Linked DNA regions of Homo sapiens. The protein of the gene in region 2 interacts with the protein of the main gene of each other region in a pairwise test. Each region holds a gene or a part of one and is shown on either strand. Other genes may lie near its edges. The genes, in order: YJU2, ZNF829 and PPT1.

Region 1 (7,108 bases), about 33 Mb from region 2:
CTACAGGCGCCCGCCACCACGCCCGGCTAATTTTTTGTATTTTTAGCAGAGATGGGGTTTCACCGTGTTAGATAGGATGATCTCGATCTCCTGACCTCGTGATCCACCCGCCTTGGCCTCCCAAAGTGCTGGGATTACAGGTGTGAGCCACCGCGCCCGGCCGAGAACAATCGTTTCTGTGTGTCTGTGTTATTGGTTTATGAGCCCCTACTTTTACCACCTTCTTCAATGAACAAACCAGAGTGGCTGAGGCCACCTTGGATGAGTCAGCTGTGGTGGAAAATGCTGGTCATCCACCAAAACTCCTTCCTCCTTTTTTTTTTTTTTTTTTTTGAGATAGAGTCTCACTCTGTTGCCCAGGCTGGAGGGCAATGGCACAATCTCAGCTCACTGCAACCTCTGCCTCCCAGGTTCAAGTGATTCTCCTGCCTCAGCCTCCCGAGTAACTGGGATTACAGGCAGGCACCGCCATGTCCAGCTAATTTTTGTATTTTTAGTAGAGACAGGGTTTCTCCATGTTGGCCAGGCTGGTCTCGAACTCCTGACCTCAGATGATCCGCCTGCCTCGGCCTCCCAAAGTGCTGGGATTACAGCACTTTGAGCCACGGTGCCCGGCCTCCCTTCGTTCTAGTTGGCAGCACAGCCAGGCACGGACCAGCTGGAGGATGCATCTCACAGTTTCCTTCGCCACCAGATGGGGCCTTGTGACTATGCTGTGGCCTCTGGCATGAGAGAAGAACTGAGGTGGGCCGCATCTGAGGCTGCGTGGTCCTCCACACACTTTTTGCCTTCCCACAGCCGGACCCTGAAGGTGCTCTGAGCCAGCTGTGGCCACAGCGCAGGAAGCCGTGCTCCAGAAGGAAGGAGGCTGAGTCCCTGAATGGTTCCAAGGAGCAGAGCTGCCCGAAGTCCTAGACTGTCAGCCCAGGGCTGTTATGACTGAGAAATAAATTTCTATGTTCTTTCTTTACATTCTCTTCTTTCGGCAGCTTAAACAGGGGTTGGCGAATTACAGACCCATAGGCCTGCCACCAGTTTTAGTAAATTAAGTTTTTTTTTTTTTTTTTTTGAGACAGAGTCTCATTCTGTCACCCAGGCTGGGGTGCAGTGGCACGATCTCGGCTCGCTGCAACCTCCGCCTCCCGGGTTCAAGCGATTCTCCTGCCTCAGCCTTCTGAGTAGCTGGGATTACAAGCGTGAGCCACTGCACTCAGCCTTAATTTTTATTTGTTTATTTTAGACAGGGTCTCACTCTTGCTCAGGCTGGAGTTCGGTCATACTGATGCAGCTCACTGCAGCCTTGACCTTCTGGGCTCAAGCGGTCCTCCTGCCTCAGTCTCTCAAACAGCTGGGACCACAGACATGCACCACCACCCATGACTAATTTTTGTAATTTTGTAAAGAAGGGGTCTCACTTTGTTGCCCAGGCTGGTCTCAAACTCCCGGCCTCAAGCGATCCTCCTGCCTTGGCCTCCCAAAATGCTGGGATTACAGGCATGAGCCACTGCACCCCGCCTATAAATAAAGATTTATTGGCACCAGGCAACACCCACTTATTTACACCTGATCATGGGTGTTTTGGGCTACAGCCACAGGGTGGAGGAGTTAGGGTGCAGACTGGCCTTTTAAGAAAAAGTCAAGTTCTGGTCGGGCATGGTGGCTCACGCCTGTAATCCCAGCACTTTGGGAGGCCTAGGCGGGCGGATCACGAGGTGAAGAGATTGAGACCATCCTTCCCAACATGGTGAAACCCCATCTCTACTAAAAATACAAAAAATTAGCTGGGCTTGGTGGCGCGTGCCTGTAGTCCCAGCTACTCGGGAGGCTGAGGCAGGAGAATCGCTTGAACCTGGGAGGCAGAGGTTGCAGTGAGCCAAGATCGTGCCACTGCACTCCAGCCTAGGCGACAGAGCGAGACTCCGTCTCAAAAAACAAAAACAAAAAACAAAAGAAAAAGTCAAGCTGACCCCTGGCTTCAGTTGTCCCTAGTTCACCTGGGAGCCCCCAGGACTCAGGCACCCCACTTACCTCATCCAGGATGGCGGTGGGGTTGGGCCGAAGGGCTGGCTGCAGGGGCGAGGGAGCAGCCTCATCCTCTGAGTCGGAGTCCTCCAGCAGTCTTCGCTTTCTGGCTTCCTCCAACAGGGCCCTGTGGGATGGAAGATGGGAACTTGGACGTGCTCTGTTTGGGGAACAGTGCCTGGGATGTACCTGCTGGGGTGGCGAGGGGCCTGGGTGCCTGGAGACCTCTTCCTGCCCTCAGTGAGCAGGGGTGGGAGGGAGTAGGGGGAGCACAGATTACTTTTTTTTTTTAAGAGACAAGGTCTCACTCTGTCACTCAGGGAGGGTGAAGTGGCACAATCACAGCTCACTGCAACCTCAACCTCCTGGGCTCAAGCGATCCTCCCCACTCAGCTTCCTGAGTAGCTGGGTCCACAGGCGTGTTCCTATGCCTTATTAAATTTTATTTCATTTTATTTTTGAGACAGAGTCTCGCTCTGTTGCCCAGGCTGGAGTGCAGTGGCGCAATCTTGGCTCACTGCAACCCCCACCTCCCAGGTTGAAGCGATTCTCCTGCCTCAGCTTCCCAAGTACCTGGGATTACAGGTGCCTGCCACCACACCCGGCTAATTTTTGTATTTTTTTTTTCTTTTTTGAGATGGAGTCTTTGTTGTCCAGGCTGGAGTGCAGTGGCGTGATCTTGGCTCACTGCAACCTCCGCCTCCTGGGTTCAAGCGATTCTCCAGCCTCAGCCTACCGAGCAGCTAGGACTACAGGCACGCACCACCGTGTCCAGCTAATTTTTGTATTTTTAGTAGAGGCGGGGTTTCGCCATCTTGGCCAGGCCGGTCTCTAATTCTGGGAGTGGTTTATGTGAGAACCACAGTGTGAGAACTCTAATCAGGGGATATAGCTTCAAAGAAAATGTCTTTTAGAAAAATGTCTTGGGGCCAGACATGGTGGCTGATGTCTGTAATCCCTGTGCCTTTAGAGGCCAAGGCAGGAGAAATGCTTAAGGCCAGGAGCATGAGACCAGCCTGGGCAACACAGCAAGACCGCATCTCTGCAAAAAGGATTTTAAAAATCAGGGGCCTACATCCCCTTACCTGGGATGACCCCTTTGCCAAGCACTCGCTTGGTGAACTCCTACTCGACCTTCAATACCCAATGCAAGACGCTCTTCCTCTGAGAAGCTCATCCTCATAATTCAAGCTCACGCATCCTGGCTTCTCTCTCACCCAGATGGATGTTGTCCTGGGTATTGGTCTCCTTGTCCCTCTCCCTCCCCACACAGTGAGCTCCGTGAGGGCAGAGCACCCATTGGGACTTCCTTAACCCAGTGGTTACCACTTCCTCTATTTAAACATAAAACAGATTAAAGGGGCCAGATGCAGTGGCTCATGCCTGTCATCCCAGCTCTTTGGGACGCTGAGACGGGAGGATCGCTTGAGCCAGGGGTTAGAGACCAGCCTGGGCAACATAGCGAGACCCCGTCTCTAAAAAAATTAAAAATGTTAGCTAGGACTACAGGCACATACCACCATGTCCAGCTAATTTCTGTAGTTTTAGTAGAGACGGGGTTTCACCATCTTGGCCAGGCTGGTCTCGAACTCCTGACCTCAGGTGATACGCCCACTTCAGCCTCCCAAAGTGCTGGGATTACGGGCGTGAGCCACCGACCGCACCTAGTCTACTTTTTAATTTTCATTTTTTTTAGGAGGAATCTTGCTCTGTCGCCCAGGCTGGAGTTCAGTGGCACCATCTCGGCTCACTATAACCTCTGCCTCCCGGGTTCAGGCAATTCTCCTGTCTCAGCCTCTGGAGCAGCTGGAATTACAGGCATCTGCCACCACGCCCAGCTAATTTGTTTTTGTATTTTTAGTACAGATGGGGTTTCGCCATGTTGGCCAGGCTGGTCTCGAACTGCTGACCTCAGGTGATCCGCCCGCCTCAGCCTCCCACAGTGCAGGATGGCAGGCAGGAGACCCTGCGCCCGGCCCCTTCTACTTTTTTACATTAACTTTTCCGTGTCCACCGAGGGCAGTGGTGTGGTTAAGTGCCTGGATGCCGGAACCAGCCTGTCTGGATGGAGCCTGGAGGGTAACCTTGGTGGGGCTCATGCCTGGACCTCCCTGGACCTCAGTCCCCTCCATGATGAAGATCACACTGACCCCCAGGGCTGTGTGGGTAGTGAGGTTACAGCCACGCCCGGCACCCGGAAGGTGCAGGATGAACGCAGGCTCCCAACACTGTTCTGCACGGTATCGCTGCTCTGCACACCCATCAGGCACTGACGTGGAACCTACCAGAACCTACCTGCTGGAAGCCCTGGGGACACAGGAGAGGCCACCACGTCCCTGTCCTTACAGCTCAGATTCTAAAGGAGGGAGGGGAGATGAGGCACCAGGAAAGGAGGGGATCAGCACGCGGGCTCAGAGGTGGTCGGCGTCAAAGGCATTCACCAGCCAACCACAGGGGCTCACACGTGTCATCCAGCACTTCAGGAGACTAAGGTGGGAGGATCGCTTGAGGCCAGGAGTTCAAAACCAGCCTGTCCAACATAGCGAGGTCCTGTCTCTACAGAAATAAAAACAATTAGCTGGGCATGGTGATGTGTCCCTGTGGTCCCAGCTACCCAGAAGGCTGAGGCAGGAGGAACGCTTGAGCCCGGGAGATGGAGGCTACAGTGAGCTATGACTGCACTACTGCACTCCAGCCTGGGCGGCAGAGCAAAACCCCGTCTCAAAGAAAAAGAAAAGCGTCGTCCGGGCGCGGTGGCTCACGCCTGCAATCCCAGCACTTTGGGAGGCCGAGGCGGGCGGATCACGAGGTCAGGAGATCGAGACCATCCTGGCTAACACGGTGAAACCCCATCTCTACTAAAAATTACAAAAAATTAGCCGGGCTTGGTGGCGGATGCCTCTAATCCCAGCTACTCGGGAGGCTGAGGCAGAATGGCATGAACCCGGGAGGCGGAGCTTGCAGTGAGCGAGATGGCGCCACTGCCCTCCAGCCTGGGCAGCAGAGGGAGACTCCGTCTCAAAAAAAAAAAAAAAAAAAAAAAAAAAAAGAAAAGTGTTCACCCAGGAGGCCTGAGGCTGTGTCCTCAGAAGGCGGCTGGTGAGGGCGTCCCTTGGTGGGTGTCCGGGAGCCTGTGCTGGGGGCCTCCCACCCTCATGGATGGGACGGGCTCTGGGGCTTCAGCTGTTCCTGCAAACACCATGGTTTATGCGTGACCCCTGCTTTCCTCTGGAGTCTGGAATCCCGGCATGGGTGAGGCAGCGGGGGCTGTGGGACCAGGCCCCATAGGAACCCCACGCTGGGTCTCTAGGAGCTTCCCTAGTGATGGCGCCTTTCTCGAGTCCTCCAGGCTGGTGCTAGGGGATGAGGCGCGTCCTGCGAAGCTCCACCAGGAGAGGATCTGGAAGGCCTGGCCCCCGACACACCACACATGCCTTTCCCCTTTGCTGAATCTGCTGTGTCCTCTCGCTGTGACAAACCGCAGCCATGCGGGCGACCACGTGCTAAGTCACCGTGCCCGGCAGTGGCCTGGGACCCCCTCGAGAGACGCCACAAGGGAGAAAGTGAGATGGGCGGTGGGAAAGGGGTCCTTGCAAAGGCGACACTCCAGAGAGCGGGGAAAGGGTCTGGGGCAGAGGCAGCGCCTGCCGGGGCAGAGGCTGCGAGGTGGGGCTGGGTTGGGCCGGCCCTGACTCACGCGGTCTCCTGCTCGTCCTCCTCCTGCTGCTGCCTCCGCCGCTCCTCCTCCGACAGGCGGTGCTGCCTCAGCATAGCCTCGAAGTCCACGTGCGCCTGCCGCTGGTTCAGGTCTTTCAGCTCCTGGAGGTTCTCCAGCACCTCCATCTCCAGCTTGGAGTCCTTGGTCCGGTTCTCCAGCACCTGGCGGGCGCGGGGCGGCGGGGCTGAGTGCATGGGGATCGCACCACGGGGCAAACCCTGTCTGGCCTCGGGGGCCACTGCGGGCCACGGGAGGAACCCCTACCCCCACGTTTCCATCCTGCTCAGGGAACCCCCTGCCCATGCCCAGCGCTGTGTCCATTTCACAGGTGAGAACACTCAGGTCTGGGGAGGGAAAGTGACCACATGGGGCTGAGCAGTGGTGGAGCCGGGATCTGAGCCCTGGGGCAGGGTGGGGTGGAAAGAGGCTGGCTCTGGACCCAGGTGGCCTGGATTTCTGGCCTGGTGCCATCTTTCAGTAAGAATAATAAGGAAAAATTTGGCCAGGCACAGTGGCTCACGTCTGTAATCCCAGCATTTTGGGAGGCCGGAGCGGGCGGATCACCTGAGATCAGGAGTTCGAGACCAGCCTGGCCAACATGGTGAAACCCTGTCTCTACTAAAAATACAGGCTGGGTGTTATGGGTCACGCCTGTAATCCCAGCACTTTGGGAGGCCGAGGCAGACAGATCACTTGAGGTCAGGAGTTCAAGACCAGCCTGGCCAACATGACGAAACCCCATCTCTACTAAAAATACAAAAAGTAGCTGGGCGTAGTGGCATGTGCCTGTAATCCCAGCTACTTGGGAGGCTGAGGCAGGAGAATTGCTTGAACCCGGGAGGCAGAGGTTGCAGTGAACCAAGATTGCACCACTGGACTCCAACCTGGGTGACAGAGTGAGACTCCATCTCAAAAAAATAAATAAATAATAAAAATACAAAAATTATCCAGGCGTGGTGGCACACACCTGTAATCCCAGCTACTTGGGAGGCTGAGGCAGGAGAATCACTTGAACCCAGGAGGCAGAGGTTGACTGAGCTCAGATCGTGCCAATGCATTCCAGCTTGGGTGACAGAGCGAGACTCTATCTCAAAAATAATAATATTAAGGAAAAATTGTAAAAGACAACCTGAGCACCTACTGTACACCGGGCCCTGGGCTAAGAGGTTTCCATATGCCATCTCATTTAATCCTCACAACCCCCATTTTACAGAAACGGAAACTGAGGCTGAGGGAGGCGAGTCTGGTGGCCACGGGTCCCTGAGAAGTGGCTTTGGAGCCAGGCAGGTTGGGAGTGAATCCTGCCTGGCTGCTTCCCAGTGCTGTGACCTTGTTGTATTTACCCTTTGGAAAAATGGCAATTCTGAC
Region 2 (7,108 bases):
AAATTGTGAGTTTTGATTAAAGGTCTTTCCACATATCTTACATTCCCATGGTTTCTCTTCACTCATAGTTTTTTGAGGTGGAATAAGAAATGTGGGCTGAATAAAAGTAGACATGTCTTCACGGGTAATTATTACTTGACTGAAATGTCTCTTCTTTAGAGATAATATTTTGGTCTCACACATTGATTCCAGATCTGAAAGAAAATACAAAGGCAAATAAATTTTCCTATTCTGGGCAAGTTAAAACTTCTAAAAAAGAAATGGGAGAATTAAACTGAAAAGAATATCTGAGAAATTACACAGTTTTCAAAGGTGGAGAGGCAATCTGTAAAACTGACAAGAAAAGCACAGACATTAGGAGAGGTAATAAAAGAAGCTGAGGATGTGGATTCAGAAAGTAGATGACCTCTATGATCCTCAAATTTTGGTCTGAACCAGAGTCACCTTAAGCCTTGGTGAATACACAGTGTTCAGCACCATCCTCCATATTATAGAGAGATTCTAATTAAAAAAAAAAAATTTTTTTTGCCCCCACCCCAGATCCCCCACAGGCGCTGCCTGAGACCCAGCTCTGTGTCTCCTCGTCGTACAGCTTGTGGAGCTCCGACTGCAAGGCCATCAGCATGCCCAGGCAGGGGTTAAGCTGGAGGGCCATGGAGGAGGACAGGCCAGCAGGATGCCGCTTCTGCTCCAGGGCATGCACCATGCGTGAGATATTCTAATTATATACACGTTCATAAACATATGCTCACATGCACAGAGTATGATACTGTATGTTTTGCAATTCGTAGATAACTGTCAGACCTACATGAAAGGACTGTTAAGAATAACAAATGTGTTGAAAGGTTTAAATGTCGGGGGCGGGTGGAGTTCAGTGACTGTGCAATGGTATACTGGCAAATCACCAGCCTCCGACAAATCTAATATGCTGAACACAACTGGTGGGAAGAGTAGACAGGTACATCTCTTCTGTGCATACAGCATGATATGGGCTAGGAACTCACTGAAAATAATTTGCTCTGGAATTCTGTGATGTTGACCTTGGGAGAAAGAAATGAATAATTCAAGTCATAGCAGTGATTGAGAAGGAAGGTGGCTCAAGTTTGAGACACAAGAGAGTTAAGATAGGATGAAATGTACTCTATGAGAAGAATGGAACTCCATGTCAACATATAAACAGTGAGCCCCAGTTCTATGCTTTAAGGCAACCTCTGAGCCCTCTTTTCCTTGTTTATTAAAATGGGACTGACACTTAACTTATGATTGCTAAAAAGATGAGGAATAACGTATATAAATAATCTGATATAAAGTAAGCACTCAGTATTGGTAGCTATTATTATGAAAAAATGTCATAGCAAAAACAGATATTGGGCAAATAAAATGGCTTGAAGACATCAAAATAAAGCCAGCTAGACTATCTTAAGTATTCCCTCCACACAATCATTGGCCAAACTTAGTCTGGGTGAGTCCCTAAAAATCTCTTAAAGTTGTCCTCATTTAATTACTGAATCCCCTCTTTCCTAGACCACTACAGGAATCTCCTAATGGTTTCCCCAGTATGTTCTAGCACCCTCTAATCCATTCAGCACCTGGTGTGATATTTGGTCTCACTTTGCCCTCCTGAAAATCTAAACTCCTTGGTAATTACCAAGAAGACTCCAATAATGAGGCTCTTGCCTACCTCTACAACCTTGTGTTATACTCCACTTCCACTTGCTCAAGAAGCCCCAGTCCTTCAAGCACCTCAAGTTCTCCCTGCCCCTCAGGGCCTTCCCACATGGATCTCCCCTTTACCTGGCATACCCCTCATCCTATCACCATTGTTGGCCCTGCTAACAATGAGAAAAGCCTCATCACAGCTTCCACTAACAACCAAGCCCTAAGCCACTGAGGAACTCACAGACACTGCTGACACTGATTGCAGCCAGAGAAATCATATGGAGATTATACCACTGCATCCACCTATAACAAAGCCAAAGCAACCTACCCAACCAACACTATAAATACATCTACAGGAAAAAGGTTTTCCTTATGAAAACAAATCCATAAAATTGGAAAAAATGACCATAACAAGAAATACACAGATATCAATGTAAGGATAAAAGAAACACGAAAAAGCATGGAACCATGACATCTCCAAAGTAATACAATAATGCTCCAGCAACAGATTCCAACAAACAAGAAATCTATCAAGTGCCTGAAAAAGAATTCAAAATAATGATATTAAAGAAGCTCAGTGGGAAACAATAGAACATGGATAAAAACCAAAAGAATCAGAAAAAACAATTCATGATCTGAATGAGAAATTCAGCAGATAGATATCATGAAAAAGAACCAAACAGAAGTCCTGAAACTGACAAATTTCAATGAATGAAATAAAAAACACAATTGAGAGCTTCAACAATAGACTAGATCAAGCAGAAGAAAGAATTTCTGAACTTGAGGACAGGGTTTTTTAAAAGAATCCAGGAAGAAAAAGTAAAAAATAATAATTTTTAAAACTGAAAAAAGCTTAGATGACATATGGGACATCATAAAGCAACCAAATATTCAAATTTTGGGTATTCTAGGAGAAGAGATGGGCAAAGGCATAAAAACCTATTTAACAAAATAACTGAAAACTTTCCAAGTCTTGTAAGCAATATAGACATCCTGATACAGAAGGCTCAATGATGCCCAAATAGATTCAATCCAAAAAGGTTTTCCAAGGCCCATTACAGTCAAACTGTCAAAAGTCAAAGACAGAGAATTCTAAAAAAAGCAAGAGAAAGGCATCAAGTCACATATAAGGGAACCCTCAGGCGTCAAGTCACATACAAGGGAACCCTCATCAGAACTAGTAGCAGATACCTTGGCAGAAACCTTCCATGCCAGGAAAGAATGGGATGATATATTCAAAGTGCTAAAAAAACACTGTCAGCCAAGAATACTGTACCTAGCAAAGCCATCCTTCAAAAATGAAGGAGAAAGTTTTTCCCAGAGAAAATGTATCACAACTAGGGTGGCCCGATCAAAAATGGCAAAGGGTGTCCTACATCTGGAAGTAAAAGACATATCTACCATCATTAAACAAATGAAAATAAGAAGCTCACTGGTAGAGCAGATACACAAATGGAAAGAGAAAGGACTCAGATGTAACCATTACATAAAACCACCAAACCAAATGATAAGAGGAAAGAAAAAGGATATAAAACAACCATAAAAAATTAACAGATTAGGAATAAATCCTCACCTATTAATAATAACCTTGAATGTAAACAGTCAAATTCCCCACTTAAAAGATACAGTCTGGTTGAATGGATAAAATAAATATGACTCACCTATATACTGGCTGTGAGAAACTCACTTTATATATAAAATCATAGACTGAAAGTGAAGAGATGAAAAAAAAATACTGCACACAAACAAACCAAAAGCAAGTGAGAGTAGCCATACTTAAATAAAACAGACATTAAGTAAAAAACTGCAAAAGAAGCAAAGAAGGTCATTATATAATGATAAATGGGTCAATTCAGCCAGAGGATATAAAGTTCTAAATTTATAGGCACTCAACACTGCAGCACCCAGATATATAAGCAAATATTATTAGATCTAAAAAGAGAGATAGGGCTGGGCATGGTGGCTCATGCCTGTAATCCCAACACTTTGGGAGGCCAAGGCGGGAGGATCACTTGAGGTCAGGAGTTCGAGACCAGCCTTCCCAACATGACGAAACCCTGTCTCTACTAAAAATACAAAAATTAGCTGGGTGTGGCCAGGCGCGGTGGCTCATGCCTGTAATCCCAGCACTTTGGGAGGCTGAGGCAGGCAGATCACGAGGTCAGGAGATTGAGACCATCCTGGCTAACATGGTGAAACCTCGTCTCTACTAAAAATACAAAAAATTAGCCAGGCATGGTGGCAGGCACCTGTAGTCCCACCTACTCGGGAGGCTGAGGCAGGAGAATGGTGTGAACCTGGGAGACGGAGCCTGAAGTGAGCCGGGTTCGCACCACTGCACTCCAGCTTGGGTGACAGAGCAAGACTGTCAAAAAAAAAAAAAGAAAGAAAAAAAAATTAGCTGGGCGTGGTGGCATGCACCTGTAATCCGAGCTACTCAGGAGGCTGAGGCAGGAGAATTGCTTGAACCTGGGAGGCAGAGGTTGCAGTGAGCCAATATTGTGCCACTGCACTCCAGCCTGGGCGACGGAACTAGACTCTGTCTCAAAAAAACAACAACAAAAAAAGGTAGACTCCCATAAAATAATAGTACGGGATTTGAACATCCCACTCTCAGCATTAGACAGTTCATCTAGATAGAAAATCAACAGCTTTGGATTTAAACTGGATATTAGACCAAATGGACCTACCAGACACTAACTGAACATTTTATCCAACAGCTGCAGAATACACATTGTTCCTATCAGCACATGGAACATCCTCCAGGAAGAGACCATACGTTAGGCCATAAGACAAGTTATAACTAATTTTTAAAAATTGAAATCATATCAAGTATCTTCTCAGACTACACTAGAATAAAACTAGAAATCAATAACAAAAACTTTGTAAACCACACAAATAAATGGAAATTTAAACAATGTGCTTGCTCATGAATGCCCATTGGGTCAATTAAGAAATTAAAGATCATCAAAGACTACTACAGGCAACTATATGCTAACAAATCAGATAACCTAGAGGAAACAGAAAAATTCCTGGATACATGAAAACCTACCAAGACTGAACCAGGAAGAAACAGAGCAGAAGAACCTGAGCAGACCAATAACGAGTAATGAGATTGAAGCAATAGTAAAATGTCTCCCAACAAAAAAAGCCCAAGACTAAAGGGCTTTACTGCTGAATCCTACCAAAATTACAAATAACTAACCTCAGTTTTTCTCAAACTATTCCAAAAAATGGAAGAGAAGTTAATTCTTCCTAATCCATTCTACAAGGCCAGCATTACCCTGATACCAAAACCAGAGAAGGACACAACAACAACAACAAAAAGAGGTGATATCCCTCATGAACATAGACACAAAACCCCTCAATGAAATACTAGCAAATGAAATCCAATAATACAACAACAAGATAATATACAACGATTAAGTGAGATTTTTCCTGAAAAGTGCAAGGATGGCTCAACATAAGCAAATCAATAAACATGATGTATCAGATCAACAGGATGAGGGATAAAAACCATATGATCAGCTCAATAGATGCAGAGAAACATCTGATAAACTTCAACGTCTCTTCATTATAAAAACCTCTCAACGATTAGGCATTAAAAAACATAACATAATAAAGACCATATATGACAAACGTACAGCTAACACCATACTGAATGGGGAAAAGCCGAAAGCTTTTCCTCTAAGAACTGGAACAAGATAAAGAAGCCCACATTCACCACTATTATTCAATATAGTACTGGAAGTCCTATCCAGAGCAATCAGGCAAGAGAAAGAAATAAAAGGCATCCAGATTGGATAATAGAAAGTCACACTGTCCCTTTACAGATGACATGATCTTACATATATTTAAAAACCTAAAGATGCCACCAGAAATTCTTGGAACTGATCAATGAAATCAGTAAAGTTGCAAGATACAAAATCAATATACAAAAATAAGTAGTACGCTGGGCACGGTGGCTCACGCCTATAATCCCAGCAGTTTGGAAGGCCGAGGTGGGTGGATCACTTGAGGTCACGAGTTTGAGACCAGCCTGGCCAACATGGTGAAACCTTGTCTTGACTAAAAATACAAAAATTGGCCAGGTGTGGTGGCAGGCACCTGTGGTCCCACCTACGTGGGAGGCTGAGGCAGAACTGCTTGAACCCAGGAGGTGGAAGCTGCAGAGAGCTGAGATCATGCCATTGCACTCCTCCAGCCTGGGAGACAGAGCAAAACTCTGTCTCAAAAAGGGAAAAAAAAAGGATTTCTATACATCCACAATAATGAATTAGCTGAAAAAGAAATCAAGAAAACAATCCCATTTATTAATATAATAGCTACAAAAAACAACCTAGAAATAAATTTAACCATGAAGTGAAAGACCTCTGTAAGGAAAACTACAAAACACAGACAAAAGAAATTGAAGACAACAAACAAATAAAAAGATATTTGCATGCTTATGCACTGGAAGAACTATTGTTAAAATGAACATACTTCCCAAAGCAATCTACAGATTCAATGCAATCTACAGATTCAATGCAATCCCGACTGAAATGCCAGTCAGTTTTTACATGAACAGGAAAAAAAATCCTAAAATTTGTAGGAAACCATAAAAAATGCCAAATAGCCAATGCAATCTGTAGCGAAAGAACAAAAGTGGAAGAATCAAACTTCAAAATATACTACAAAGCTGTCGTAACCAAAACAGCATGGTACTGTCATAAAAATAGACCCAAAGACCAATGGAACAGAAGAGAGAACCCACAAATAAATCCATGTATTTATAGTCAACTGATGGTTGACAAAGGTGCCAAGAACAGACATAGGGAAAAGGACACGCTGTTCAATAAATGGTGCTGGGAAAACTGGTTATCCATATAGTGAAGAATGAAACTAGACTGTATCTCTCACCATATACAAAAATAAACTCAAAATGAATTAAATACTTAACTATAAGACCCCAAATTATAAAACTACTGCAGGAAAACATAGGGGAAACACTTCAGAAGAATAGGCAAATATATTTTAGATAAGACCTCAAAGATATTTTCAATAAGGGGCAACAACAAAAAAATAGACAAATTGGACTATATTGAACTAAAATGCTTCTGCACAGCAAAGGAAACAATCAGCAGAGTGAAGAGACCTGTAGAATGGGAGAAAATATTTGCAAACTCTTCACCTGAGAAGGGACTAATATCCAGAATTAACAAGGAAGCAAAAAAACTTAATAGCAGTGCCATAGCGGCTCATAACTGTAATCCCAGCACATTGGGAGGCCAAGTCAGGAGGATCACTTGAGGCCAGGAGTTCAAGACCAGCCTGGGGAACATAGGGAGACCCCCCCCGATCTCTATAAACAGTTTTAAAATTAGCTAGGTATAGTGGCATGCACCTGCAGTCTTAGCTACTTAGGAGGCTGAGGTGGTAGAATCACTTGAGCCTGGGAGTTCAAGGATGC
Region 3 (7,108 bases), on a different chromosome or scaffold from region 2:
TTGCAGTGAGCTGAGATCGCACCACTGCACCCCAACCTAGATGACAGAGTGAGACTCTGTCTCAAAAAATAAAAATAAAAAATACTGATTAAAAGCTATAGATTGATGTGTTTATCTTCACTTCCTCCTTAAACTTTAATTAAGTGGTAGCAGAAGAATAAAAAGTGATAAACCCACAAGGGCAGAGAGAACAGGGAGAGAGGAGGTAAGAGATCATAAAAAATGGCAACATGTTTTTGAAAGCAAGCAAGCAGATGAATGAGTGTGAGAACTGTTTTAGCAGAGCAGATGGTGAAGGCTTAAAGTAATAAAGAGAAATCATTTTGTCTTTGTGATACTGTCCCAGGTTGCCCCTGGTATTAGGGAGGATTAATTCTGGTTGCAAGAAGAAACCCATATCAAGCCAAAGTAAATTTTAAAAGAAAGTAATACTCTGTTGGTGCCTAAAGCCTCATAGGGCCTAGAATCAAGAATTGGGAGCCATGAGGAGCCAGGGTATTCTCTCTCCAGTGCCATTGTTGCTTCTCTCTCTGTGTCGCTGCTTCTTTCTCTCCATGCAGACCAGCTTCCCCTGCCACCCACATGATGGAAGGTGGCCTCGCACGGCTTCCAAATGTTTAATTTTCTGTTAGGAGATTGTCTCAGTCTGAGGCTAGACTCTCTTTGTCCCGATTCAGATTCTTCAGGAAGGGACCATGCCCCAGCTCAGGTCAGGTCTCCCCCTCTGCTCTCATTAGCTGTGGCCAGAGAAGTGGGACCGTGCTTACTAACCATACCCCACCTCCCTGTAAACCAGTAGGCCGGGCAGGAAGAGTGCAAGAGAGGCAGAGACCCCAAAAGATGTCTTCCACATTCTTCAGATAACTTAACCTTAGCAAAGCAAACGTGATATCCTAATACGCACAGTAACTGGTGGGGAAGCCCCCGGCTTGGCATGGTGAGGGCAACGAGGAATGGTATAATAGTTCTCTCTCTCCTTCCTGGATGTAAAACTACCCTCTAGTTCCCTTTTGCCTTTGCAGATGCTGTCAGCCCTTCCTAGCCTTCTCCTTCCTCCGGTTTGCTCCCTGCCATCCCCTGCCCCACGCTCTACCCTCCTACCTCTACACTCCCTGCCACAATGAATGCTTCAGTGTTGCCCTGGCCTTGGCCTCCGTCTTCCCCCGTACCAGCTCAGAGGAAGCTAGAGCTTTACATATCCTGTTTAATTTTCATAGCAACTTGCCTTCCCCAGGTCTGCTCTGGGCCCCGCTCCCAGTTTGCACCCCACCCTCAGTGGATCTCAGAGTGCTTTTCCTCAATTGTCCAGTTTTCCCATGTCTTTGCCCTCAGCCGATGAACTTGCAACTTGGTTTTCTGGAAATATTAAGGCATCTACTCAGGCTCTCTCAGAGACTTTCAGCCATTCAAAAAAGTTAGAGAGTAATGTAACGAACTACAGGCATACCTCAGAGAAACTGAGGATTTGGTTCTAGACCACCACAATAAAGCAAATATTGTTAATACAGCAAGTCACACAAAGTTGTTGGTTTCCCAGCGCATATAAAAGCTATGTTTACACTATACTGAAGTCTATTAAGTGTGCAGTAGCATCATGCCTAAAAAAAGTACATGCCTTAATTAGAAAATACTTTATTGCTAAAAAATGCTAATCATTTGAGTCTTCAGCAAGTCATCTTTTTGCTGGTGGAGGGTCTTGCCTCGGTGTTGATGGCTGCTGACTGATCAGGGTGGTGGTTGCTGAAGGTTGGGATGTAGGGTCCAGCCCCACAGGGTCGGTGGGTTTTTCTCCCTGTGTGCGGAGATGAGAGATTGTAGAAATAAAGACACAAGACAAAGAGATAAAAGACAGCTGGGCCCGGGGGACCACTACCACCAAGACGTGGAGACTGGTAGCGGCCCCGAATGCCAGGCTGCGCTGATATTTATTGGATACAAGACAAGGGGGGCAGGGTAAGGAGTGTGAGCCATCTCCCATGATAGGTAAAGTCACATGGGTCACGTGTCCACTGGACAGGGGGCCCTTCCCTGTTTGGCAGCCGAGGTGGGGAGAGAGAGAGAGAAAGACAGCTTAGGCCATTATTTCTGCATATCAGAGACTTTTAGTACTTTCACTAATTTTGCTACTGCTATCTAAAAGGCAGAGCCAGGTGTACAGGATGGAACATGAAAGCAGGCTAGGAACATGACCACTGAAGCACAGCATCACAGGGAGATGGTTGGGCCTCCGGATAACTGCAGGCGGGCCTGACTGATGTCACGCCCTCCACAAGAGGTGGAGGAGTAGAGGCTTCTCTAAACTCCCCCGGGGAAAGGGAGACTCCCTTTCCCAGTCTGCTAAGTAGTGGGTGTTTTTCCTTGGCACTGACGCTACCACTAGACCACGGTCCGCTTGGCAACGGACATCTTCCCAGACGCTGGCATTACCGCTAGACCAAGGAGCCCTCTAGTGGCCCTGTCCGGGCATGACAGAGGGCTCACACTATTGTCTTCTGGTCACTTCTGAGCATGTCCCTTCAGCTCCTATCTCTGTATGGCCTGGCTTTTCCTAGGTTATGATTGTAGGGCAAGGATTATTATAATATTGGAATAAAGAATAATTGCTACAAACTAATGATGAATGGTATTCATATATAATCATGTTTATGATCTAGGTCTAGGATAACTCTTGTTGTTTTATATATTTTATTATACCGGAACAGCTCATGCCCTCGGTCTCTTGCCTCGGCACCTGGGTGGCCTGCTGCCCACATTGGGGTGGCTGTGCTAATTTCTTAAAGTGAGACAATGATGAACTTTGTATCAGTTGACTCTTCCTTTCATGAAAGATTTCTTTGTAGCATGCGATGCTATTTGGTAGCATTTTGGCCACAATAGAACATCTTTCAGAACTGGAGTCAATCCTCAAACCCTGCCGCTGCTTTTATGTAAGCTTATGTAATATTTATTCTAAATCCTTTGTTGTCGTTTCATCAGTGTTCACAGCATCTTCACCAGGAGTAGATTCCATCTCAAGAAGCCACTGTTTTGCTCATCCGTAAGAAGCAATTCCTTATCTGTTTTTTGAGATTGCAACAATTCAGTCACATCGTCAGGTTCCACTTCTAATTCTAGTTCTCCTGCTATTTCCACATCTGCAGTTACTTCCTTCATTGAAGTCTTGAATCCCTCAGCCATTCATGAGGGTTGGAATCAACTTCTTTTAAATTCCTGATAATACTGATATTTTGACCTCTTCCCGTGAATCATGAATTTTTGTTTGTTTGTTTTTGAGACAGAGTCTCACTCTGTCACCCAAGTTGGAGTGCAGTGGTGCCATTACAGCTTACTGCAACATAGCCTCAACCTCCCAGGCTCAAGCAATCCTCCCACCTCAGCGTCCTGAGCAGCTGGGACTACAGGTGTGAGCCACTACACCCCACTAATTTTTTAATTTTTTTGTAGAGATAGGATCTCATTTATGTTGCCCAGGCTAGTCTCACACTCCTGGGCTCCACTGATTTTCCCTCCTCACCCTCCCAAAGTGCATGGTACCCAGCCCGTTAATGTTCTTAATGGCATCTAGAATGATAAATCCTTTCCATCAGGTTTTCCGTTTACTTTGCCCAGATGCATCAAAGGGATCACTGTCTATGCAGCTACAACCTTGTAAATGTATTTCTTAAATAATAAGACTTGAAAATTGAAATTACTACTTGATCCATGGGCTGTAGAATGGATGTGCTGTGGCAGGCATGAAGACAACATTAATCTCTTTGTACATCTCCATCAGAGCGCTTGGGTGACCAGGTGCTTTTTAATGAGCTGTAATATTTGTTTGTTTTTTGAGTTTGTTTTTAAACTTTTTTTAATTAAAAAAAATAGTTTTTGAGACAGGGTTGTGCTCTCTTGCCCAGACTAGAGTGCAGTGGTGTGATCACAGCTCACTGCAGCCTTCACCTCCTGGACTCAAGCCATCCTCCCACTTCAGCCTCCTGAGTAGCTAGGACTACAGGCATGCACCGCCATGCTCGGCTACTTTTAAAAAGAATTTTCTTTTCTAGAGGTGGGGTCTTGCTATGTTGCCCAAGCTAGTCTTGAACTCCTGGCCTCAAATGGTCCTCCTACCTTGGCCTCCCAAAGTGCTGGCATTGTAGGTATGAGCCACCATGCCCAGCTGCGTGGTAATGTTTTGAAAGGAATCTTTTTTTCTGAGCAATAGGTCTCAACAGTGGGCTTAAAATAGTCAGCAAACCACACTGTAAACAGATCTGCTGTCATCCAGGCTTTGTGTTCCATTTGTAGAGCACAGGCAGAGTAATTTAGCGTAGTTCTTAAGGGCCCTAGGATTTAAAAAATGGTAACCCAGCATTGGCTTCAGCTTCAAGTCATCAGCTCCATGAGGCACTCACAAGAGAGTCAGCCTGTCCTTTGAAGTTTTGAAGCCAGGCATTGACTTCTCCTCTATAGCTGTGAAAGTCCTAGATGGCATCTTCTTCCAATTTAAGACTGTTTCACCTACACTGAAAATTTGTTGTTTATGGTCGCCACCTTCATTAAGTATCTTAGCTAGATCTCCTGGATAACTTACTGCAGCTTCTACATCAGCACTTGCTGCCCCATCTTGCACTCCTGTGTTATGGAGATGGTTTCTTTCCTTGAACCTTACAAACCAACCTCTGCTAGCTTCACACTTTTTTTCTGCAGCTTCCTCACCTCTCTCAGCCTTCATTGAATTGAAGAGAGTTAGGACGTTGCTCTGGATTAGGCTTTGGCTTAAGGGAATGTTGTGGCTGGTTTGGTCTTCTATCTAGACCACTCAGATTTTCTCCATAGCAGCAATAAGACTGTTTTGCTTCCTTATTATTTGTGTGTTCACTGAAATAACACTTCTAATTTTCCTCAGGAACTTTTTTTTTTTTGCATTCTATAAATGTTCAGAGTTCTAAACCTTTAAAAGGTTTCAAATACATGTATAAACACATTCTAGAATGTCACTCTGACTGTTGCTTCCTTTAACTTCAGTCTCATCTGCTCCTGGGAGGGAGAGCTCCATCTCTGACGTAGCTGGCTCTGTTGGGCTTTAGCGCCAGCCTGCTCCACCGAGTGGCGTTTTCAGGACCACTGCCTCTGGGCAGCTCTTCCACTCTGGCTACGGAGCGTATGTTGTAGAAATTTTGATTTCTCTCCCTGCCAACCTGGGATAGAGTTTGTTCGAATTTCCCCATGTGAGGCCTTGGGGTAACCGTGCCCATTTTGAGGAGGTGGGGGCTGGAAGGGAAGAGGAAGTGGAGAGAGATTGGAAAGAAAGTATAAAGAGTCCCCTTTGCTCCAGTTCCCAGCAAGTTCCTCATCTCCATCTGAGACTACCTCAGCCTGGACCTTATTGTCTATATCACTATCAGGCTTTTGGTCAAAGCCATTCAACAAGTCTCTAGAAAGTTCCAAGCTTTCCCACATTTTCCTGTCTTCTTCTGAGGCCTCCAAACTGTGCCAGCCTCTGCCTGTTACCCAGTTCCAAAGTCACTTCCACATTTTGGGTAACTTTTCAGCAGCACCCCACTCTACTGGTACTTATTTACTGTATTAGTCTGTTTTCATGCTACCGATAAAGACATACCCGAGACTGGGCAAATAGAGGTTTATAATGGACTTACAGTTCCATGTGGCTGGGGAAGCCTCACAATCATGGCGGAAGGCGAAAGGCACATCTCACATGACGGTAGACAAAAGAAGAGAGCTTGGGCAGGGAAACTCCCCTCTTAATTTTATTTTCTATTTATTTATTTATTTATTTATTTATTTTTTGAGATGGATTCTCGCTCTGTCTCCCAGGCTGGAGTGCAATGGCGTGATCTTGGCTCACTGCAACCTCAGCTTCCCAGGTTCAAGCGATTCTCCCTCCCTCTGCCTCCCAAGTAGCTGGGATTACAGGCACATGCCACCGTGCCTGGCTAATTTTTGTATTTTTAGTAGAGACGGGGTTTCCTCATGTTGGCCAGGTTGGTTTCGAACTCCTGACCTCAGGCGATCTGCCCGCCTTGGCCTCCCAAAGTGCTGGGATTATAAGCATGAGCCACAGAATCTGGCCCAACTCCCCTCTTTGAAACCATCAGATCTCATGAGACTTATTCACTGTCACGAGAACAGCACAGGAAAGACCCACCCCTGTAATTCAGTCACCTCCCATGACATATGGGAATTGTGGGAGTTACAATTCAAGATGAGATTTGGGTGAGGACACAGCCAAACCATATCAGCATGATAAGTATGATAAACCCCAGTGTCACAGGAGAAGCAAATATTGATGAGTCCTTTGCCTGAATCTTTTATAATTTCTGTACTATGCTGAACAGTCTGTCTCAACAAGGTGTCTTGTTGACAGACTGTTTCCTAGGTGCAAGTCTTGTCTTCTGTATTAAAGGGTAAGGCCTGGGACTTGAGGGCTTTGGCCTTTTGTCCTTGTTTTTTGAGACAGAGTCTCACTCTGTCGCACAGGCTGAAGTGCAGTGCTGCGATCTCAGCTCACTGCAACCTCTGCCGCCGGGGTTCTAGCAGTTCTCCTGCCTCAGCCTCCCAAGTAGCTAGGATTACAGGCGCCTGCCGCCGCGCCTGGCTAATTTTTGTAGTTTTAGTAGAGACGGGGTTTCACCATCTTGGCTAGGCTGGTCTTGAACTCCTGACCTCGTGATCCACCTGCCTCAGCCTCCCAAAGTGCTGGGATTACAGGTGTGAGCCACTGTGCCTGGCTGGCCTTTTGTCCTTTTAAAGTCTCTTGGTGGCCTTTGCACTGAGCATGCCCTGGGCGTACTGACTGACCTGTAGCTTGATCACCTCATTCTTTTTTTTTCCTACAGCCTCGTGCAAGCCGAATACTGGCATGACCCCATAAAGGAGGATGTGTATCGCAACCACAGCATCTTCTTGGCAGATATAAATCAGGAGCGGGTAAGCACCCAAACCGGGCTCCCATAGATGTGCGTTCTTTTTCCTGTTTAGGTCTTCATAAACAAATCAGCAGTGACTGTTTACCCAAACTGTCCTGGGCAGACACTAGGAAAGAGAAGTTCTGTTTTTTTTGGGAGGCAGGGCCTTTGAGATTCAGTTCCCTTTAGGGAGGTTGAAATTC

What was found.
Region 1: the proteins of ZNF829 (region 2) and YJU2 interact in binary tests that used the Homo sapiens proteins (3 or more experiments, as listed by UniProt).
Region 3: the proteins of ZNF829 (region 2) and PPT1 interact in binary tests that used the Homo sapiens proteins (3 or more experiments, as listed by UniProt).

Annotation. Positions count from the first base shown.
Region 1 is NC_000019.10:4,257,035-4,264,142, reverse strand, and holds part of YJU2 (splicing factor YJU2), read right to left. Parts: intron 5,902-7,108; coding exon 5,720-5,901; intron 2,150-5,719; coding exon 2,029-2,149; intron 1-2,028.
Region 2 is NC_000019.10:36,892,278-36,899,385, forward strand, and holds part of ZNF829 (zinc finger protein 829), read right to left. Parts: intron 942-7,108; exon of another isoform or gene 541-941; intron 195-540; coding exon 1-194. UniProt on the Homo sapiens protein: May be involved in transcriptional regulation.
Region 3 is NC_000001.11:40,080,216-40,087,323, reverse strand, and holds part of PPT1 (palmitoyl-protein thioesterase 1 isoform 1 precursor), read left to right. Parts: intron 1-6,836; coding exon 6,837-6,927; intron 6,928-7,108. UniProt on the Homo sapiens protein: Has thioesterase activity against fatty acid thioesters with 14 -18 carbons, including palmitoyl-CoA, S-palmitoyl-N-acetylcysteamine, and palmitoylated proteins. In contrast to PPT2, PPT1 can hydrolyze palmitoylated proteins and palmitoylcysteine.